Linked DNA regions of Homo sapiens: region 2 is linked to region 1. The links come from fine-mapping of genetic effects on gene expression. A gene starts in region 1. The other region holds a variant in brackets. All regions are shown on one strand. Distances are between the middles of the regions. Region 1 holds the start of MARCHF10 (membrane associated ring-CH-type finger 10). Region 2 overlaps MARCHF10 (membrane associated ring-CH-type finger 10).

Evidence for each region. PIP is the estimated chance that this variant, and not a neighbour inherited with it, causes the effect. A credible set is the group of variants that fine-mapping cannot tell apart.
Region 2: its variant is the best candidate, but not a certain one, in a credible set for the expression of MARCHF10 in NK cells (Gilchrist 2021, PIP 0.73).

Annotation. Positions count from the first base shown.
Region 1 is chr17:62,805,383-62,810,753 of GRCh38, reverse strand. It overlaps MARCHF10 (membrane associated ring-CH-type finger 10), which reads left to right and starts at 2,440. Exons shown (of 11, transcript NM_152598.4): 1 at 2,440-2,677. It overlaps MARCHF10-DT (MARCHF10 divergent transcript), which reads right to left and starts at 2,252. Exons shown (of 2, transcript NR_135634.1): 1 at 1,803-2,252. RefSeq lists a silencer at 2,402-2,551.
Region 2 is chr17:62,708,792-62,714,162 of GRCh38, reverse strand. MARCHF10 (membrane associated ring-CH-type finger 10) reads left to right here. Exons shown (of 11, transcript NM_152598.4): 9 at 2,819-2,932. The region is part of intron 2 of MARCHF10-AS1 (MARCHF10 antisense RNA 1); the gene reads right to left. Among named protein-coding and RNA genes, the nearest start is that of MARCHF10-AS1, 5.3 kb to the right of the region's middle. The variant A/G (reference allele first, on the strand shown) is at 2,292.

The sequences.
Region 1 (5,371 bases):
TTTAATAGATCTTGTCTGGGTACAGGAAGTACCAAGGTGCTTTTCTTAGTAGTGGGCAACATCAAGTTACTGGAGATGGAAAGCCCTGTTTTTGAACCCTGGTTCTGGTACTTACCATATGTTCTGGTCATGTCCCTTACCTTCAACAAGGTGAGAACCTGGGCTTCAACTTCCTCCTCTGTTATTTTTATTTGAGGTGGGTCCTCGCGCCAACAGAACAAGCTCCCTACCTATCATTTCACTATTATAGTTTCAACCCAGTGTGCGCATCCAAACTTTTTTTTTTTTTTTTGAGACAGAGTTTCTTGTCGCCCAGGCTGGAGTGCAACCTCCGCCTCCTGGGTTCAAGCAATTCTCCTGCCTCAGCTTCCTGAGTAGCTGGGTTTACAGGTGGCTGCCAGCACACCTGGCTAATTTTTGTATTTCTAGTTGAGATGGGGTTTCACCATGTTGGCCAGGCTGGTCTCAAAACTCCTGACCTCAGGTGATCCCCCTGCCTCGGCCTCCCAAAGTGCTGGGATTACAAGCGTGAGCCACCATGCCTGGCCCAAAGCATATCCTTTTGAAAGGCAAAAACCATGAGGCAAGTTCTTAGGTTACATCCTTATCAGTTAATACTTCAATTATCAGTTAATGCTTTACTAAGGAATACTTGATAATCAGCTGAGAACAAGAACAGAATATGGACTGGGCTACTAGAGATGAAAAGATCCTAGGGTCTGCTGGAGGACCAGCGAAGTTCAGATGGGAAAGTGCCCAGTGGAAAGACTTCAGCTAAGTACATTTGTCTAGACTCTGCCCAGCTCATGATATGTCTTTGAAGCTGGTGTGAAGGCAAGGAAAAATGTTCAGTGTGTAACACATAGTCCCATCTGGCTGAAGTATGAGTGAAGAAGTGATGAAGGGGAAAAACCAAGAAAGGAAACTGTGGGGGAGGGCACAGGGAAAGTCATAGTGACGAGTTTGGACTTCATTCCACAGGCGGTGAGGAACCTTTCAGGGCTTTTTAAGCAGGGGGCCAGCAACATTAGATGTAGGCTGCTTATAGGATGGGGGAAATGGTGAAGATAGGGTGTGGAGGACAGGCGCCCAGGGTGTGACCAGGAGGCCCTCAGAATAATCCATGGAGCCCAAAACTAGGTCATGGAGCCCAAAACTAGAGTGATAAGAATAGAAAGAAGAATGTGACGCTGCCAAGGACTTGGCACCAACTGAATGGGGGGAAGGGGAGGTGTTGAGAAGACGGTCAAACCACAGACACCTAGGGATTCCGGGCACTGATGAAAGTTCCAAGAATTTCTATTCTTCCTTTACCTTACTCTCCACTCAATCAAAAATACCCTAACTTGACATCAGTTGACAAGTTGAGAGCCTAAATATGCAAAGTAAATAGGGGAGTCATCTTTGCCCATGAGAACCACAGACAGACATCAACCCGGCAAAGCCGGGCAAGGTGGCTCATGCCTGTAATCCCAGCACTTTCGGAGGCCCAGGCGGGCGGATCACTTGAGGTCAGGAGTTCGAGACCAGCCTGGCCAACATGGAGAAACCCCGTCTCTACTTAAAAAAAAAAAAAAAATACAAAAACTAGCCGGGTGTGGTGGCGCATGCCTGTAATCCCAGCTACTCGGACGGCTGAAGCATGAAAATCGCTTGAGCCCCGGAGGCAGAGGTTGCAGTGAGCCAAGATCGTGCCACTGCACTGTCCAGCCTGAGCTACAGAGCAAGACTCTGTCTAAAAAAAAAAAAAAGAAAGAAAGAAAAAAAAGAAAAGAAAAGAAAAGAAAAAGAAAGAAATCAACCTGGCACAGAGAAGGTGAGGGTAGTAGCGGTTCTGGTGCCCTGGCTCCAAAGCTGTAGGGCCTGGTCTAGGCCTCTAAGCACCTCTCTCCTTGGAAAGGGGGTGAAGACGACTGATTACGAAGAGGCCTGGGCTCTAATGTCGGTTCTGCCACTGACTGGGTGCCTGGCTTCATCGCTTATTTCTTCTTTTTCGTGTTGGACCAGAGCATTCCAGATGTCCTCTGCAGAGGTCGAACTCCAGGACTGCAGTATCTTTTCCTCTTCGCATGTACCGCTTTTCACATTCCCTGATTCCATTAAAAATATTTTCCTCTCTCGTTTTCTAATCTCATTTTTTATGAAGCACAGCACCCTTTCAGGGAAGGGAGCAGAGGCCTGGATATCTGGGTCTGGGCTTGGGCACCCAGACAAAGCCAACCGCCTCCTCCTTGGGCATCTCTTCTCTGCCCACCAGCGTGGCTCTGACTCCCCGACTGCAGCCCGCCTCGTTCCCACGGCAACCGGCGGGCGCCCACGACTGGCTTGGGACCCCGGGGCCACAGCCCCGCCCCGCCCCGCCCCGTGCTCTCGGCGGCTGCACCTGGTCGCGCGGGGGCGGGGAGGCGCGGTTGCTAGGGAAACCGGAGGACGCCCGGTAGCCGCCCCCACCGCCTCCGCCCCAGGCAAGGCCGGCCGGCGCCGCGGAAAGCAGCCTCGGGGAAGGAGGAGGAAGAGGGGCAGGTGTAGGGAGTGAAGAAGCAAAAAGAGGAGGAGGAAGAGGAGCTCAGGGCCGTCCCCGCGCAATTAATGGGCGGCTCCTGCGCCCTGGACCGGCCCGCCCGCCCAGCCCCTCGACCCCTGTAGCCCCGGCAGGGGAGGAAGGGCAGACCCACAGGTAACGGCCCCCTCGCCCCCGCCGCTCCGCTCCAGTTCTCCCAGGATGGGGGACAACCTTCCCTTTCGACTTACAAGATTCTGGAGGGAAACCGGGCCTGACATCCGGTGGCCTGGCCGTCCCCTCCCCTCGGCTGACCCCAGCCCCAGCATTTTTCTGTCTCAGAGGGACAGGTTTGGGGGAGACCGTGAACCTTTGCTCACTGGCACCCACATTCTTTCCTGCAGACGCCACTGGTCAGAAAAGGTATACACAGACCATGGCCCACTGGGCTTCTGAATGCGAAATGGTCGATATTGATTTTGTTTATTTTTGAGAAGGAGTCTCGCTCTGTCTCCCAGGTTGGAGTGCAGCGGTGCAGTCAGGGCTCACTGCAGCCTCGACCTCCCAGGCTCAAGCGATCCTCCCGCCTCAGCCTCCCGGTGGTAGCTGGGACCACAGGCCAACACCATGTCTGGCTAATGTTTTAAATTATTTGTAAAGAAGGGGTCTCGTTATGTTTCTCTGGCTGGATATTGTTATTAATGATGGCACTGAATTGCTTGTCAAACCTGTGACGTTTCCTCCCCCAGAGTTTCCCAATTACACGTTGAGTTTCTCCTCTCTTCTGGGCTTGATGGTCGAAATGTGACCACCTATCTCTCCTAGTTTCACAGTAAAATGAAGAGTCACCGCCAAACACAAGTCTGTTCCCCACCCTCCACCCCGCCCCCAACTCTTAAGCCAAATTGGCTGGAAGAGTTGAAAGATCTCCTTACCTTTCCCAACCAATTCCCCCTTTTTCTCTGCAGTCACAGTATTCTTAAATTGGGCCCAAATCGTAAACTTTGTTGCTTATACTCAAGACATGTTTATAAGCTAAGACTTTAAAATGCAAAGTTTTTTTTAGAGCTAAGATTTAAACAAATCCTATAATGTCTGACATTACAAATTAATCAATTGGGGAAAAGGTTGAATAAGGTCTCCTGAAATCCTTCTCCAATCACCTAATTGTGGAAAGGGAGTAATTTTCGAGCCTGATTGTCCGGTATTAACAATAGCCATTTAGATTTTATTTCAAAGCAACCTTCCGTCTAAGGAGGAGGTTAGATTGTTTACATTTCCTTTATTGCTTAACAGCATATTAACTTTAGTGATGTCTTTCTCTTATGAGAACATAGTAAGAAACCAATAAGACTTTGATTGTTATTAAGAACAGGCTCCTTCAAATCAGTTCTTTTGACAAATGTGGTCATAAAACAGAGGGATGGTACGTATGCATGACTTTTAGAGCACTGAAAAACATTCTGCAATCAGATTCTGTTCCCCTCAGTCAGGAAAACTTGGTTGGAATTCACTGGAAAATTACACTAGAGAAGAACGTGTATGTCACAAAGTTCTTAGAATATTCCCCCATTAAAATTTCACAGATATGTAGAATTTTGAGGCCAAGAAGAATTACTCGCTCTTGCTTTCAGCAAGGCAGGACCCCCTCCTTCCTTCTCCACCTGCCTCCAACTCCCTCCTCCTTTCTCTCTCCCTACTTAATATGGCTTCTTATGTTGATTTCTAAAGCACAGATTTGGCACAAGACATTATCACCAGAAAGACTTAAAACAGAAGTGTGCATAACCATGAGTGGGTTTTAAATTAAGAAGCAGTTCAAAGGTGAGCGATAGAAGAGAATACAGAGTGCTATTTTAGAAACATGCGCCTTGCTCACATTTTATTATCACCCCCACCCCAACCCTCTGTGTTTGCTGGGGAAAAATTCTTGGCTTCAAGTGGCCATCTGGTTGAGTAGGCCCACAAAGCTGAGATCCATGAATTAAGCATTATCTCATGTAGTTTTATTTCCATACTGTTATTTCTGTTTCTTGTTCATCCTGGTCAGTTTTTCAAACTGACTGAGTGCAGTATGAACTTCAAGCAAACACAGAGAATGTTTGCTTATACTGAGGTAACCCACCATCTTCTTGGTCTGACACTAATACCGTTTTCTTGGTTCCCGTAATATTTGTTTAATCTCATGAAGACTTGATGTATTTAAATAAAAAATTACATGTGGCACCACGATGTTTCTAAATATTGTAAAATACAATGTAATAGAGAGTTTATGGGAAGGAAGAGAGACTTTTGTAGGCAATTTTATTTTTATTATTTTATTATTATTATTATTATTTTTTTTTATTTTTGAGGGGATGGAGTCTCTCTCTGGAGTGCAGTGGTGCGATCTTGGCTCACTGCAACCTCCGCCTTCCAGGTTCAAGTGATTCTTCTGTCTCAGCCTCCCAAGTAGCTGGGACTACAGGAGTGCACCACCACGCCCAGCAAATTTTTGTATTTTTAGTAAAGATGGGGTTTTGCCACGTTGGCCAGGCCGATCTCGAACTCCTGACCTCAAGTGATCCACCTGCCTTGGCCTCTGTAAGTGCTGGGATTACAGGCATTTTAAAGTCCTTTATTTGGTAGGTGATTGTGAAGTCAGAGGTAACTTAGCAAGTAATTCAAAGGGTGCTACTTCCTATTTAGACAAAGTTATTTCATGCCTCTTGACTTAGAAGCCTCCTTAAATTAACCCTGCTCTAAAGCCGTGATAGATTAACCGGCTTTCTATATTAACTTTGGCAACCAAAATGTATCATCCAAGTGGACTCTGGGATGCTCCCCTTTAGTGACCATTAACATATTTTTATTATGAGTCTTTATGGTCTC
Region 2 (5,371 bases), 97 kb after region 1:
CTCAGTGGGCCTCAGGCTGTCATTGCTGTGAAGCACAGGCCTGGCCTGGCTCCATCTCAGCCAAGGACAGATGTCCTCAGACACACGCAGTCACCTAATCACCCTTATACCTAGGAGCACTCTTGAATATATTTGAAGACTTGATAGAACATTCAGCCAGGCTGTCAGCTTCTTTAAGTGGAATATATTGAGAATTTCCGTCAGTAGCAAGTCTCTTGGCCTAAATGAATATTAGCAAAATGGAGAAAACAGCTGGCAGGTGGGCTGAGATCTCCGGAGCCCTTTTGCGCTGTTTCACATGCCTTCTCCTTTTTAATGTCCCCGCCCCCTCCTATTAATGCCACCCCCATTCCCTTCAGTCTGGCACACAAAGGGAACTCCACGTGGGAGTCAAAGTGTGATGTGATTGGGACAAGGAAGGGGTGGATGGGCCGTAGCTCCAGTAAGCCCTGCTCCAAAACCTCGTTCATTTGGCCCTGGCCAGCCAAGTGCGGTGGAACTCTTTGAGTTAACAAATCCCTCCCACTTGTAGCTCAGGAGTGTAAAGGCTGATTCGGAGTTGACTATCACACGCCTGCTCTGATTGGTGGGCTGAGCCCCTTTGTCGAGCATCACCAGCTCTGCAAAGGGCGCACATAAAGGAACCGAGCCGGCGAGATTGATGGCACTGTGTGGCAGGTTCCCTCCCACAGATCAGAGAAGAGACACAATCTGCTAGAAGTGACTTTTCAAATTATCTGCAGAAAACATTAGTGGATATTCTCCCATCTGCATGCCTCTGGGCCTTATTGAGTCATAAAAAGTAAATGATTTTCCTGAATGCTTTGACAAACCTGATAGTTCCAAACCATTTTCTAGCTGATTGATTTGTCATCATGCATCCCGGTGTCTCAAGCATAAAAGCTGGCTGGCAAAGAGCACTGGTGAGAGAACCACTGGCAGCTTTTGCAGGAGGAAGCCGGGGATGAGGTAAACAAATAAGGACCAAGGCTTTGTTGGTGAGGAGGAGCTAAAAGCCAGGTGAGGAAGGCTTCTCAGAAGAGGTGGTTGGCGAGACAGTCGGAGGCAGGCACAGACTCACGGGGAGGGCAGGAGGAGGCAATTAAAACAGAAAAAGTGGCTAGGCAGGGTGGCTTACACCTGTAATCCCAGCACTTTGGGAGGCCAAGGCAGGTGGATCACCTGAGGCCAGGAGTTCGAGACCAGCCTGGCCAACATGATGAAACCCCATCTCTACTAAAAATACAAAAATTAGCTGGGCGTGGTGGTGCACACCTGTAATCCCAGCTACTCAGGAGGCTGAGGCAGGAGAATTGCTTGAACCTGGGAGGTGGAGGTTGCAGTGAGCCGAGATCACGCCATTGCACTCCAGCCTGGGCAAGACTGTGTCTGTCTCAAAAATAAAATTAAATAAATAAAACAGAAATAATGCAAACAAGCAACTTCTTCTCTACTCACTCTAGGCCAAGGTCAGCAGAGCACAAAAAACACGACCAAAGGCTAAAAATAGGAGGCTAACTGCTAAGGACAGAGGACTGGGGCCTTCGAAGATGGATCTGTAGAATGGTGGAGAGGCCTGCAGCAGTGATCTCAGGGCCGGCTGTCACCAAGATCCAGAGTTGGCCCTGATTCAGAAGGAAGAGCATATCAATCCTTGCTCAACTTCTGTGCCTTTTCTGGCAGCTGCTTGGTCCTGGGAGAGGTGGGTTCTGTGCCAACCTCCTGAGCTGCCCTGGATCTAATGAGAACAGGAAGATGTGGCACCCGCGCTGCTGCAGGAAGAAGGCAGATGAGACACTGAGTGCTCACTGTGTCATTCATGCCCACGCATCGTTATCCTGGGCCGACAGAGTCACAGTTGCAAGCTTTCCCAAGGGTGACGGAAGGGGCCATGCCCTCTGCTGGGGACTCTATTCCCCGGGGGCTGGGTGGCTTTGTGAGCACAGCCTGGCCCATCCCAAGACCCCCACTCAAGGGAAAGATGGGGACTGAAAGGGCCTTCCCCTCCTTCCCCTATAGAGGGATAGGAGTAGTTGTTACTAATACCACTGATTTATGGAAGGTCTGTGAAAGGTCTAGAGTGAGCACAGCCACTCTTGGCAGCAAAGCCCAAGTGCTAAGGACAGAGAAGTGCCATGGGCAGCCAGACCATCACATCCTCCCTGTGTAGCGCCTGTTCTGAGCACCAGCGAGAAAAAAAGCACAGCCCACTCCTCAAGAGAAAGCGGAAACGTTAACAAGTGCAAAAGGTGATATGCAAGATCAAGACGAATGCTTAGGGACTGGGAAGC[A/G]AAGGAATGATGGGGGCAAAGGAGGCTCCTCAGGAAGCCTTTCACAAGGGGACATCTGTGACTGCTGAGAACGTTATGGACAAGGCCTGGTGCATCTCTGTTGTAGCACCCGACACATCCAGCTTGTACTGGAGCTGTTTACCGATGAAGCTCTCTCCCCCACACCAGGTGATCGGTTCCCAGCAGGGAGTTCTGAGGCTTTTTGCCCTGTGTTCCCCACAACATCCAGCTCAAGGCTTTGCATATGTAACTGCTCAATAAATGTGGAATGGGATTGAGCCTGGAAAATGGAACTTTCTCCGAGCATCCTCCACTAGCTAGTAAAAAATCCCAGGGGAGTGGCTGCCCTGGCCTCTACCCTGGATCTCCTCCTGCTCTGTCTTCTGGTCCCCAAGAGCAGGCCTTGCCTTGGAGCTTGGGCTCTTCTCCCAGTTCTTGTCACCTCTTAGCCTTGTTACCCTGCATCCCACAATTTAGACCATGACTATTTTACAGATGAACTGAAGAGCTTTCTTTTCCATTTGTAGGCACAAAACGAGCTGATGAATTCAGGCTTGTACCTGGTGCTGCTGCTTCACCTCTATGAGCAGAGGTTTGCAGAACTCATGAGGCTCAACCACAACCAGGTGGAAAGAGAGAGGGTAAGTCTGGCTGTGACCCAGAGCTGTCCGGTGGCAGCCCTGAAAACCCTGCAGTGCTGTTTATTAGATGTGCAAGCTGTTGAGGTCCTCACGGTCGCTTGGGAGGATATGGGACTATCATTGTTAGGACTAAGATTTAGCAGCTGCTAAGTGTACACATGGTGACCCTCTGGCTGAAAAGTAAGTGACGATCACATAATTGCTTATTATTAAACATGAGTAGTAATTAAATGGTCATCAATGGTCATATAACCGAATGAGCCTCTAGGATATTTGCCCCCCAAAAATAGAGGAGAGCAAGGATGCAGGGGCTGGTTGTGTATTACGTGTGGGCACCCGAACATGGAGGACCTGCGAAAAAGAGGAACCTGGCTGGGTGTGATGGCTCATGCCTGTAATCCCAGCGCTTTGGGAGGCCGAGGCTAGAGGATCACTTGAGCTCAGGAATTTGAGGCCAACCTGGCCAACATGGTGAAACCCTGTCTCTACTAAAATTACAAAAAAATTAGCTGGGTGTGGTGGCACACGCCTGTAATCCCAGCTACTTGGGAGGTTGAGGCAGGAGAATCGCTGGAACCCAGAAGACAGAGGTTGCAATGAGCTGAGATTGTGCCACTGCACTCCAGCCTGGGTGACAGAATGAGACTCCGTCTCAAAAAAAAAAAAAAAAAAAAAAAAAAGCTGGGTTCAAACTGTTAGTCATAAGAAACCTAGATTTTTTTTTTTCTGGCTCACATTCTCTCCTTAGACCCTGAGCTCTCAATTAAGACAACAGGCTGGGGCTCTGCCAAGATATCTCCTCAAGAATCTCACCCTCCTTTTGACCCAGGCCTGTCCTTCCTAAACTCTTCCATGGTTTAAATGCTGACATAAATTTCTCAAAGAAATACATTTTTTAAAAAAGAAAAGTACCAGAAGCAGGATATGATCCTTTGTTAACATTTCTGTAACCTTATTTTCATGATTCCACATCTTTTTAATGAACTTTTTATTGCACACTGAACTTCAAAGCATCCGGGGTTGATACAGGTTACAGATGGCCCCAAGAGCAGTGAGCCAATGCAAGCAACATTAGCCACCAGGCTTGCAAAGCAAACATGACAAACGACAAACAGTACAACCCAACAGATGAAGACCAAAGCCCTAAAGCACTGCCTCTAAAGAAACTTCCAGTAAATCTGTCCTGGACTAGGAAGAAGTTGCAAGGAGCAAGCTGGGAACCAGAGCAAAAAGCAGCAGGAGGGACCAGGGACACTCTTCTCTCACCACAAGCTCACATTGAACTGGAGAAACCCTGAAATTGATCTCACCCACTTAGACCACCGAGCAGTAACAGGTACAGATAACCAGTTAAGAGGCACCCAGGCCCGGTGCCGTTGATGCTGCCGGGAGGCTGACGCTGCAGTGAGCCATGATTGGTGCCACCGCACTCCAGCCTGTGTGACAGAGTGAGACCCTGTTTAAAACAAAAAACAAAAAAAGGCACCCAAATGAAAGTAGGAAACCAACTGGCTCTTGTTAAATTCACACTTCTTGATTTGCATCTCAGTAATTTCTCGTAGAAAACATTCAGAATCTGATGGTAACATTGAGCAAAAGAGAGGCACTAAGTCAGCAGAGAAGCCCTCCTTCCCTCTCCTTCATCTACCAGAACTGGAGAATTCACTCACATTGTGTTTCTTGGTTGTGTCTCATGAAGAGACCCAGTGATGGATGCCTCGTTTTTTTTGTTTTGTTTTTTTGTTTTATTTTTTTGAGACAAGAGTCTTGCTCTGTCACCCAGGCTGGAGTGCAGTGGCTCAATCTCAGCTCACTGCAACCTCTGCCTCCCGGGTTCCAGTGATTCTCCTGCCTCCACCTCCTGAGTAGCTGGGATTATCGGTGTATTGTGCCCGGCTAATTTGTGTATTTTTAGTAGAGGCAGGGTTTCACCATGTTGGTCAGGCTGGTCTCGAACTCCTGACCTCAGGTGATCCACCTGCCTTGGCCTCCCAAAGTGCTGGGATTACAGGTGTGAGCCCCCGTGCCCGGCTGACAAATGCCTGTTAATGGTGGTGATCATTTGTCATCCATTCATGCACTGCCCTGTACCAGGTGCGGAGATGAGGATCAGGGAAAGAAGCTACTAGACGCTAGACATGACGCCCTGATGTCCCTTTCCGTAAAGAGCTTGTCAAGGAGTTGAAAGAGGAGACACATATTTATAAAACCAGGAAATAACTGGAAAGTAGCACCTGTGCAAGAGAACTAGTGGACCCAGTGAATTCCTACAGGCTGTGAATTTGACAACATAAGCTCTTCCCTGGCTGGGGCTTCCTGGGGTTTCCTGCAATCCCATAAACAACTGGTCTCCTCAGTGAAGTTGTGAGCTATATGAATGCAAAGCCAGGCCTTCTATGCCTGCCTCTTATGATGCTGGGCCCACAGTGAGTCACATCT